2 separate regions of the Homo sapiens genome follow, and region 2 is linked to region 1. Evidence: fine-mapped expression QTL. A gene starts in region 1. The other region holds a variant in brackets. All regions are shown on one strand. Distances are between the middles of the regions.

The links.
Region 2: its variant is fine-mapped to the expression of SYPL1 in tibial nerve (GTEx, PIP 0.96).

Annotation. Positions count from the first base shown.
Region 1 is chr7:106,109,902-106,115,274 of GRCh38, reverse strand. SYPL1 (synaptophysin like 1) reads left to right here and starts at 2,963. Exons shown (of 5, transcript NM_182715.4): 1 at 2,963-3,135. The coding sequence starts at 3,067. RefSeq lists silencers at 2,556-2,615, 2,696-3,185, 3,196-3,445 and an enhancer at 2,901-3,733.
Region 2 is chr7:106,055,670-106,061,042 of GRCh38, reverse strand. No RefSeq gene overlaps it. Among named protein-coding and RNA genes, the nearest start is that of SYPL1, 54 kb to the left of the region's middle. RefSeq lists a silencer at 1,819-1,938 and enhancers at 2,279-2,378, 2,409-2,568, 2,252-2,803, 3,649-3,698, 4,209-4,258. The variant C/T (reference allele first, on the strand shown) is at 2,178.

The DNA of each region.
Region 1 (5,373 bases):
TATATTACAGGGATTCTTTTCCAAATAGCCCTGGTAGAGTAGACCTGGAACATGTTGTTCCCAGAGCATCTGGCTCTTTCCTCAGATTTGAGGAACAAATCAGAAAATGACCAGTGTTGTAGTCAATGTGATACAGTCATCTGAACATTCTTCCCTGATTTTGAACAGTTGTGCCTTCAATGAGATGCTATTGTTTAAACACTTTTGTTTGAGGAGGATTTAAAAAAAAATCACAATTATCTTGTTGCCCAATCAGATCTCACTGGCTCTGCCAGTCACGGCCAGTTCCTTCTCAGGAAGGTAGGCCCCTGAGCTCAGCTGACTGGCAGAAGCAGTGCTAGGCTGTGACTGAAGGTGAGCAGTGGCGGCTCACTTCTGTTTCCTTCTGCTCAAGAGAGATTCTGCGAATGAGTTCTGATAAGTGACCAGATGTGGTTCTGCTCACCCTCGGTGGTCTCCATCTTTAAAATCGAGTGCCACAGGGCCAAGGAAGGAACCTTCTTAAAGTTCAAGGAGTTACTCTAGCACTGAAGGTTTCCTGAGGAAATGTAACCACCATGCCTTCCACTGGTGGGCTTGAACAAGAAGCAGGAGAGAAAGTGAGGAGAGGCAGACAGAAGCAACAGAAAGTTTAGCGCGGAAGTTGAGAAAGGGCCTGGCCAATTCCAATTTCTAAGGCCTTCAATAAACAAAAAGAAGAAGAGATGCCAATATTGGTTTACTAAGTCATGGTATGTTTTAGATCTTTAATTAATAAAGCTGCATGTGAACATATCTCTAATCTGTCAAGGCATATCTCATTTTGAAATAACATTAAGAGCTGGGCGCGGTGGCTCACGCCTGTAATCCCAGCACTTTGGGAGGCCGAGGTGGCGGATCATGAGGTCAGGAGTTCAAGACCAACCTGGCCAACATGGTGAAACCCCGTCTCTAATAAAGATACAAAAAAATTAGCCGGACGTGGTGGTACGTGCCTGTAATCCCAGCTACTCGGGAGGCTGAGGCAGGAGAATCGCTTGAACCCGGGGGTGCAGAGGTTGCAGTGAGCTGAGATCACGCCATTGCACTCCAGCCTGGGTGACGGGGCAAGACTCTGTCTCAAAAAAAAAAAATAATAATAATAACATTAAGAGTCTAATTTGAATATTCGTGAATATGAAGCTCAAGCTAAATAGTCTTACTATTCACTACTCCGTCCCCAGGTGCCTACCCAGAAGACCGCAACAGAATGAGAGTAAAAGCTTAGAAAAACGGGCTAAAGAGAACAAAAAGAGAAGTACTGAGAGGAAGATACAGAAACAAAGTAGAAAAAAAAGGAGAGAGAGGAAGCTGGAAGACCTGGAGCACCGCTCATCGTGGTCTCAGACGCACCAGGTAGCAGTGTATGGTCACCTTCCACTCACCTAGCCCTAAGGGGTATCTATGATGCTTTGTTGCTTAGTGGGAGAAATCTGCAACCATCCATTAGGAACCCGCTGCAACCCCCCCACCTCCCGGTTCAAGCGATTCTCCTGCCTCAGCCTCCTGAGTAGCTGGGATGACAGGCGCGTGCTACCACGTCAGGCTAATTTTTTTGGTATCTTTATAAGAGACGGGGTTTCACCATGTTAGCCAGGTTGGTCTTGAACTCCTGACCTCACGATCCGCCGGCCTCGGCCTCCCAAAGTGCTGGGATTACAGGCGTGAGCCACCGCGCCCAGTTCTTAATGTTATTTCAAAATGAGATATGCCATTAGGTGCTCATTGAGCACTGACTGTGCTGGGGACTGAGGAACGGGAGCCAAGATAAACATAAAGATTGTCTCTGTCTGCATAGAAAATGAAATGTATTTTTTGCACTCTCTGGACAGCAAACAAGGAGATAGGTCTCGAAAGAGAAAGGGTTCGCTTACTACAAGGACGTTCAATAACAGTTGTCAACCCTGACGGAATAACCTCAGTGGCAAGTAGCCTGCAAATCATATTCGTGCTTGAAATTCAGGTAAGTCCTTGGAAGCTGGTTTTTCATATACACGAATATGACCACATTCCAGCTGTCCAGGAACTTTCCAGGTACTGAAGAAGCCAGGAAGGAGATCACACTACCTTGGGGCTCCCGTAACTGCGTGCCAAGAGGAAAGTATCACCTAAGCCGAATCTTAAAGGGGTCAGCTTCTTGAAGAAAGATACCAACGATGCCTTAAAAAGAGGACTGTCGACCGACAGCGTAGAAGAGGTGAAAGTGTAGGTCACCGAGGGCCTGTCCGGCCACGCCTTTCCTTTTAGGTATAAACTTACTTCATTTTTCAACCATGGCTGCGATGGTAACTTTGAAAATAAACCTAATTTCCATACGAATATTTGGTGATTCACACTTTCGAGGCACCCCACAGCACGGTAGCCAGAAGTCTGTTGTTTTGCAATTTTAATCAAAGGCCCCTAACACATGCCTTGAAACACAACTTCATCTGTGCCAATACATTATAAATTCATAAAAAAGTTGAGATCTGTTAAGGGAAGGAGAGGTCAGCTTCGGTGTAGTGAGCTCAGCTGTGGTGAGCTCGGGGTCAAGTGAGGGTGTCTCTGAGGCCAGCGCCCCCAAGCTGCGCAGGAGCGGGCGTGGGCGCCCCCGGGTCAGGGCTCTTCGCAGTCGCGCGGGTCCGGAAGCGCGGCGCGGGCCCAACGAGCGCACGCGTACACGCGTGCGCAGGGGAAGACCGAGTGCCAGGGGCTGAACCGCAGGGAAGGGGGCGCGGCGCACGCAGTATGGCGCCCAACATCTACTTGGTTCGCCAGCGGATCAGTCGACTCGGCCAGGTGCGGCCTGAGGAGAAGCCTCCCGGTCTCCGCCCCGGCCCGCCCCTCGCCTCCCCAGCCGCCCCACTCCGTTTCCGCCCCAGAGTCTCAGCCAGCAGCTCAACCGCCGCCGCTCCGCCCCGCCCCGCCCCACGGCCGCCCGGGCCCGCCTCCGAGCCCGGCCAGCGCGCCAGCCCCGCCTGCCCTTCCTCGCCACCGGGCTGCTCTGGTCTCGTCGGTCCCCTCCTCCGCCCCGTCGTCCTGACTCTCTCTCCCTCCTTTCCTCAGAGGATGTCCGGCTTCCAGATCAACCTCAACCCGCTCAAGGAGCCACTCGGCTTCATCAAGGTCCTCGAGTGGGTGAGTGCAGCCCGCGCCGGCCAGGCCCGCCTGCCGCTCGGCGCGGCGCCCTAGGCGGGGAGACGGGGACCTGCGAGCCGGGACGCAGCCCTGCCGCGCGGGCTTTGAGGCCGCCGCCCCGGGACTGGGAGTGGACGGCAGGGAGGGCAGGGAGGCCGCGGCCTGGGCCGCGCGGGGCGGAGACGCCGCGGCGGGCGTCGAATCACGAGCTCCTCGGCCGCCTGGCTCCCAGGGGAGCCACCCTCCCACACCGGAGCTCCCCTCTGGGTGTCCCCGTGGAGTGGGAGTTCAAATTTCCCCTTGGCTCCACTGCCTCCCGCAGAGGAAGGGAAAACTTCCTGCTGCGGTCTAACCGAAACCCGGCGGCCGGCGTCGCGCTCTGCGGAGAGGCTCAGCGGTTACGTCCCTGCCGGTGCCCACTCGAGGTCTAGCTCCCTGGGAAGCCGATTTTGTCTTGTAGACGTGATTTGGCGAGCATTCCGTTCTTAATTTGTTTTTAAGATGGGCTCCGAGTTAAAAATAGTAAAAAAATAAACTGTGGGCCAGGGAAACTAAAGAAAGTCCTTTTAACAAAACGCATCGAGTCAGATCGGTTCACTTAATAACACGTTAGGAATGGACATCGAGTTTGTTTGGGGTATTTCCAAACAACATCCTGTTTAGAAAGTCAGCTTTTAGTCCTTTCCTGAGAACACTCACAATCATTAACATCAAAGAACGCTTATTAATTCGACCTTGGCAATGATCAGTTACTTGGAGGAGTTGGTGAATATACCAGGCACTGCGGGCTTCCTTCAAACTTCGCGGCCCACTACATATTTCTGCAGGCAAGTTGTGTTTATAGACAGCAGCATTTACATCCATAGCTTTTTCGCCCTTTTCCTTAGTGATAGAGTGGTGAAGAAGAATAAGAACTTTCAATTTCCTGTTCTAAATAACCTACCGAGGATGTTTTTAAAAGCAGCGTAGAAACTCAGTTTCTCTGATGGGTACCTAATGTGATTTCCTACTTGGACCATTGTAACCGCGCAAGGGGTTAGGCAATTTCACCATTCACTGAACATTTTGTGTGTTTTCTGAAAACTGAAGTAGTGCTGACTTCACACAAATGACTACTTGAAAGACGCATAAATAAATATACTTGATTTTTTTAAACCTAAGTCCAGATTTAAGTATAAAGAAAACCATGATTAAAGCATTTAAAAATTGCAAGAGGAAAATCTCATTAACGAGGCTAATCAAATATGAACGTTAAGAAAGTCTTATATCTAGATTTAGTCTCATTGAGGATTATAATTAAATGTATAACTAATAATTTAGATTTCCACTTAAATGAAGAGGCAGTTGTTTATATCTGTGCTTATATTTTTTGTCAAGTTTTTAAACAACTGTAGACTTAGCTTTTTCCTTAATATTTCAAGCACTAGTGATAAGTTCATTCGTGTTTTGATGTATTTTGAAAAATATCCCTTTTTAAGCATCTTACAGAAATACTTTCAGTTTGAACAGCTTGTTATTACACAGGAGAGCCTTTTATGAAAAGACTACACATTGTTAATGGTGTGGTAAATATTTGACTATTTTATACCAGATCTGTACTAAACACTAGCATACCACATGAATAAAACATGGTCTTTTTCTCATGATCTATTAAGGATGAAGGACATACAAAATACAAAAATGCCATGTAATAAACTGTGATAAAGGTGTATGCAAAGAATAGTAGAAGAAATGAGGGAGAGAGCATTTGCTTGGAGGAACTAGGGAGGACTTCATAGCTGAGAGAACACTTGAAGGATGGGTACTGGTTCACTTGGGGAGTGGCTTTCTAGGCAGAAGGAATCTTATGTTCAGTGGAAGGAAATGTTGAAGCAGCATAACCCTGTATGAGAACTTAAAAGTAATTGGGGGTTAGTTGGAATATATGCTAGGTTGGAGGGTACGGTTTGAGATTGTTCTGAAAAGATTTCAGAGGTCGGCTGCTTCTGGGGTTAATCTTTGGGAATCTGGGCCCTTTCCTTAGGAAAATGCATATGTGCAGGGTATGGAATATTGGAGTGTTTATTCCATTCAAGCCCAGAATCCCTGCCATAGGGGATGGGAACTTAAAGGCTTTAAACAAGTCAATGATACGACTAATTTTAGGCACTCATAATTCCTCAATCAATCGATTTCTCCCTCCAATTCTGACCTTTCCAATCCATCCCTCTAACTGCCGACAAAATGAAAATTTCTAAA
Region 2 (5,373 bases), 54 kb after region 1:
CACCTCCTGTCAGATCATGGCAGCATTAGATTCTCATAGGAGCACAAACCCTACTGCGAACGGTGCATGCGAGGGATCTAGGTTGTGCACTCCTTATGAGAATCTAATGCCTGATGATCTGAGGTGGAACAGTTTCATCCCAAAACCACCCCATCCTCCTTGTTCATGGAAAAATTGTCTTCCATGAAACTGGTCCCTGGTGCCAGAAAGGTTGGGGACCGCAGATTTATTGGACAACAAGTGATGCAAACGTTCATGGCATACTAAGCTGTAGCTAGTTCTCATTCCAAGTATGAGTTCAGGCATTTCAGGACATGCTTTCAGCTGCCTGTTGAGGCTCTTAAAGGCTAACCAGGAAAGGTTTCCAAACAAGGTAAGCTCCCAAGGAAGAGTGCCAGCAAGATCCTGCGTGAGCGGGCCACATGGGCAGCCCCTTAGGAAAGGTGCCTTGGCAGACCTGGCTGCAGGCTGCGTGGGCTGCTTGTTACACACAGCTTTTGCCTTGGACAATAGCCTGATAAGGCTGCACACTAGGGAGAGGGTAGCTTTGTGGCCAGCTGAGGGAGTCCCTTTCTACCTGAACTTGGTCTAGAACGTGCTAGTTGTCAGCCATGTTTACCGTACCATCAATAGCCTGTCCTGAGGTCCTCCTGGAACTCAGTGTTGGGCTTGTGAGGTGCAGCGAACTACTTTTCTGATTGAAAATATGCTCTCTAGGCCGGGTGCAGTGGCTCATGCCTGTAATCCTAGCACTTTGGGAGGCCGAGGTGGGTGGATCACCTGAGGTCAGGAGTCCAAGACCAGCCTGGCCAACATGGCAAAACCCCGTCTCTACTAAAAATACAAAAATTACCCAGGCGTGGTGGCGCATGCCTGTAATCCCAGCTACTTGGGAGGCTGAGGCAGAAGAATTGCTGGAACCTGGGAGGCGGAGGCTGCAGTGAGCCGAGATTGTGCCACTGCACTCCAGCCTGGGCAACAGAGCGAGACCCTGGCTTCAAAGGGGGAAGAAAAATGTTCCCTAAAGCCCACCTGGCCGGATAAGACCTGGGGAAACATCAAAGGAAAGGATGAAGATGGAGTGAGGAGGTGTTTCTAGAAACTGGAGGATCTGCCACACTCGCCATTGGTGAGGACAGGAAGGGAAGGGGCAGGGGCAGACTCAGGCTCTGAGTGGGAGGATATTGGGGGAAGGACAAAACAGAGGGCTCTGCAGAGCCTGACAGGCCAGGCTTCCCAGGGAGAGGACCAGGGCCACTGAGAACCATCCAAGGAGCATCTCCAGGCCCCGGAGAGAGACTGGAGGAAACAGACTGGAGGAAATGGATCTCACTGCCTGTTTTGCAATTTCCTGGACACTGACTAGGTTAGCACATCCCTATGTTGACTGGCCCTATGTGTTGCCTCTTCTGTCAAATGCCTATTCATATTTTTTTCCCATTTTTCTTCTGAACTATCTGTCTATTTCCCACTCCCTCCACCCCACCAGGCATTCAGGACTCGATATATTCTTGAAGCTAATCCTTTGTCACTTAAGTGCTACACATATCTTTTCCCAGCTTGTGGCTTATCTTCTGAGTTTCTTTAAAATACCTGTGATGAACCAAGGTTCTTAAATTTAACGTGGTTGAAATCATGAATCTTTCTTTTTTATGATTTGTGATTTTTTGGTGTGTTATTTTTAAGAAATTCTTCCTCACTCCAAGATCAAAGAGATATTCACTTCCATTTTCTGCTGGTCAGATATCCCACCCACAGGGATGCTGCTGTTGTTTGGGGACCTGTGCCCAAGGCAAGGATGGGCAGACCCCAAACCTGACATGCTGTCCCCAGATGCCAGGAGGACCACATGTCAGGGCCTGCACAACCTTAGGGTGCCTTTCCTGTAAACCAGCCCCCAGACGTCACTGGGTACAAGCTAGTGCTCCTAATCTACCCCCTACCCGTACTTCGGCCAACACAAAAGGTGCCAGTGAGCCTGAAGCCATAAGATCCATGTGGCAGATTTGAGGGCCCCAGATGCTGTATTCAACTGGGGGTACTCAAAATACTGTGATCAGCACAGATCTGTCTGCTCACCACATGCCAGGATCTGCCAGGGACCATCTCACAGCTAATGATAAATCCTCCTGTCAGGGCCACAAAGCAGGGCTTTGTGTCACTGTGTTAGCCCGCAT[C/T]GTCCCAGGGCAGGGCTCCAGGCTGAGCTGGTCAGCCCAGGCCACTGCAGACAATGGAGCCACAGTGGGGCAGGGCTTGCAATGGAAGTCAGTATGGAGGATGGTGACAAGAAGCAAACACCCTGACAGCAGCCAGGCCCATGCACGCCTCCCCGAGGAGGGAGGACAGGGCGGGGCAGGCTCTGCAGAGTCAACGGGCAACTTGAATCTTGCAGCATCTGGCTAGCACCCAGGCAGGCTCCACAGATGCCCGCCTGGGCCTGATTTTCCTGTTCTCAGTCTCCCACGTCTGCCAGGAGGCCTTGATAAATATTCAATAGCTCTGGCCTCAGAGCCTGTGTCTGGAGGACATTCTTAGGCAGTGAACTGGAGACAAGCTGAGAGGAGGCCTTTAAAGGAGCCCCAAACCTCAGCCTCTCCTTTCTGCTCGGGGTTTGGTTTTAAAGAGTCCCAGGGGAGCCACCCACCTGCAGGCCTGACCCCCTGAGGTCGATACGCGGGTTCCCTGAGCCCAGCTCTCAGGGAAGAAAAAGGCAGAATTCAGGCTGCTAGAGCAGCCGGGATAAGAGAAGTGATGCTGGCAAATGTGGTATTTAATGGATATTTTAAAACACCAATAGCAAATACAGTCATTTCTGGGACTTTTTTTTAGAAGATGCTGAATTAAAAATTTGCATCTTCCCTCATTCTTGATCTCCTTCTGCAGTTCCACTTGAGCAACCCCACAGGCTCCAGTCTCACTTCTGCTCACACCCTCCACCTGCTGCCCACGCAGCTTCCTGTCCTGCCCCCACCGCGCCCCCTGCGCCGTCCCAGCTCACCTGTTGGCCATCAGACATCACTCACGACCCCTCCCTTTCACCAGACTGTGGCTCCCACCATTTTGATTATGAAGTTTCTCATTTAGCTCAAAATATCTGACAGACTCCCTGCCCCATTCATTATATTGGACACATAGAGTCGAATATATATTAAACTTCAATTAGATCAATTCTATATTAGACTTCTATAAAACATCCAGTGGGTGAGAAACTATATAATGATCAAAGTGACTGCAAATTCAGTAACCACATTGTGCAATCATATTTTACTTATCACAGAAACATCCAGGCACCTTTGAGAACCAACAGGACGTTCATGTGCAGAAGATGTGATTTCTTCAATCTAAAGACAGTGGAGAGAGGGGTGTGTGCGTGTGTGCACGGGTGCACGTATGCAAATTTGCTGGCCCCTCACAAAAGCTCTAGTTTCTGGAAGGAGAGCCCGAGTGTCCTCAGGCCCAGCGGTTCCAAGCATTACTGGGTGCCTCCACTGAGATAGCAAAGGACTCACAGGTCTCCAGGCACCTGGTAATAATGTGGAATTGGCCGGGGCTGCCTGTTGCTGAGGAAGTTCTTGTCAAGTCTGGCCTTGGTGGGAGCACCAGTGGTAGTCAGAGGTTCTTCACCTTTTTTGGGTCATAGACCCCTTGGAGTGAAAATGTTGGAGGTTTCTCCTGAAAAGCACACTGCAATTCAGGGGATCCCCTGGGTCCTGGAGTCCATGCATAGGCATCATGGACCCCACATGGAAACCTCCCTGATTGAGAGGTCTCGAAAGCTTTTCCAGTCCTAAGAGTACAGTTTCTAATTTGCTGGAGTCGGCTGGACTTTCATTCCCTGGCAGAGCCATTTTGGAGGATAAGAAGATGTGTCTTCTCTACCACCGCACATGCGGTCCACAGTGACTGAGGGGAGTGTCACGGTGCCACCTTGTGCTTCTGTCCTGAAACTGCACCTTCTCTGGGGCCCATGCTCAGGTCCACACTGCCCACCTCTCACTCCATGAGCCTCACTCCCTACCACTCTCCCACCTTCTTACTCTGACCAAGCCACATGGACTCCTGACGTCCCTGCCTTGGGGGCCTTTGCACTGACTGTTCCCCCTGCCTGAAGTCTGGGTTTAAAGCCGTATACACAAGTGCAGTTTGTACAGTCATATCATGAACCAAGAAAAAAAGCAAATGTTTATGAAGATGCCTTTATTTTCACTTGGCCTAAAGCGAGAAAGTATCACATGAGTATATAAAAGAATTTTTTAAATTTTGAGGCAGCTTTGAGGAGAGATTGAGGAAGATGAGAGGGTGTAGTAGTAAGCTCTCATTAAGTTTTGCTGCAATAACAAATAGCCTCAAAAATCTCAGTGGCTAGGCCGGGCGTGGTGTCTCATGCCTGTAATCCCAGCACTTTGGGAGGCTGGGATGGATGGATCACCTGAGGTCAGAAGTTCAAGACCAGCCTGGCCAACATAGTGAAACCCTATCTCTACTAAAAATACTAAATAAATTAGCCGGGTGTGGTGGCAGGCAGCTGTAATCCCAACTACTTGGGAGGCTGAGGCAAGGAGAATCACTTGAACCTGGGAGGTGGAGGTTGCTGAGATCATGCCACTGCACTCCAGCCTGGGCAACAGTATGAGACTGTTAAAAAAAAAAAAAAAAAAAAAAACTCAGTGGCTAACAGCAACAAAAGTATCCCTCAAATTGCTTCTTTATTTTTATTTATTATTTTTTTGAGATGGAGTCTTGCTCTGTCACCCAGGCTGGAGTACAGTGGTGCAATCTCAGCTCACTGCAACCTCCGTCTCCTGGGTTCAAGTGATTCTCCTGCCTCAGCCTCCCGAGTAGTTGGGATTACAGGTGGCCGCCACCACGCCCAGCTAATTTTTGTATTTTTAGTAGAGACAGGGTTTCATTATGTTGGCCAGGCTGGTCTCAAACTCCTGACCTACAGGTGTGTGCCACCGCACCCGGCCTCAAGTTGCTTCTTCCTGGTGGGGCAACTGTGGCTCTGCTTCCTTGCAGGATGGAGGAGCGAATGAATCGCTGGGAAGTCTTCTCACTTTTGTCCCCTTAAAGGAGAAAACGATGCGGAATGACGAAGCTGGGGCCCCCTGCTTCCCTCACATCCATAGCTTTTCTGAGGCTCCTGGCTTTCTTGCCTTCACAGAGCAGGACTGAAGCTGTCCCTGCTCCATAGGCGTGAGCTGCAGCCATGGGGTGGGACAGAGCCTCCTGCTTGGGCCCTGAGCCTCCCAACCAATACCCACATGGACCCAAAAGTTCCCAAGAACTCTGGGGGTATTGCAAAACCCCAAAGCCCTTCTACTCCGACTGCCACAAGAGGGAGGAAGAAGGCTTCTGGGTGCCATTAGAAGA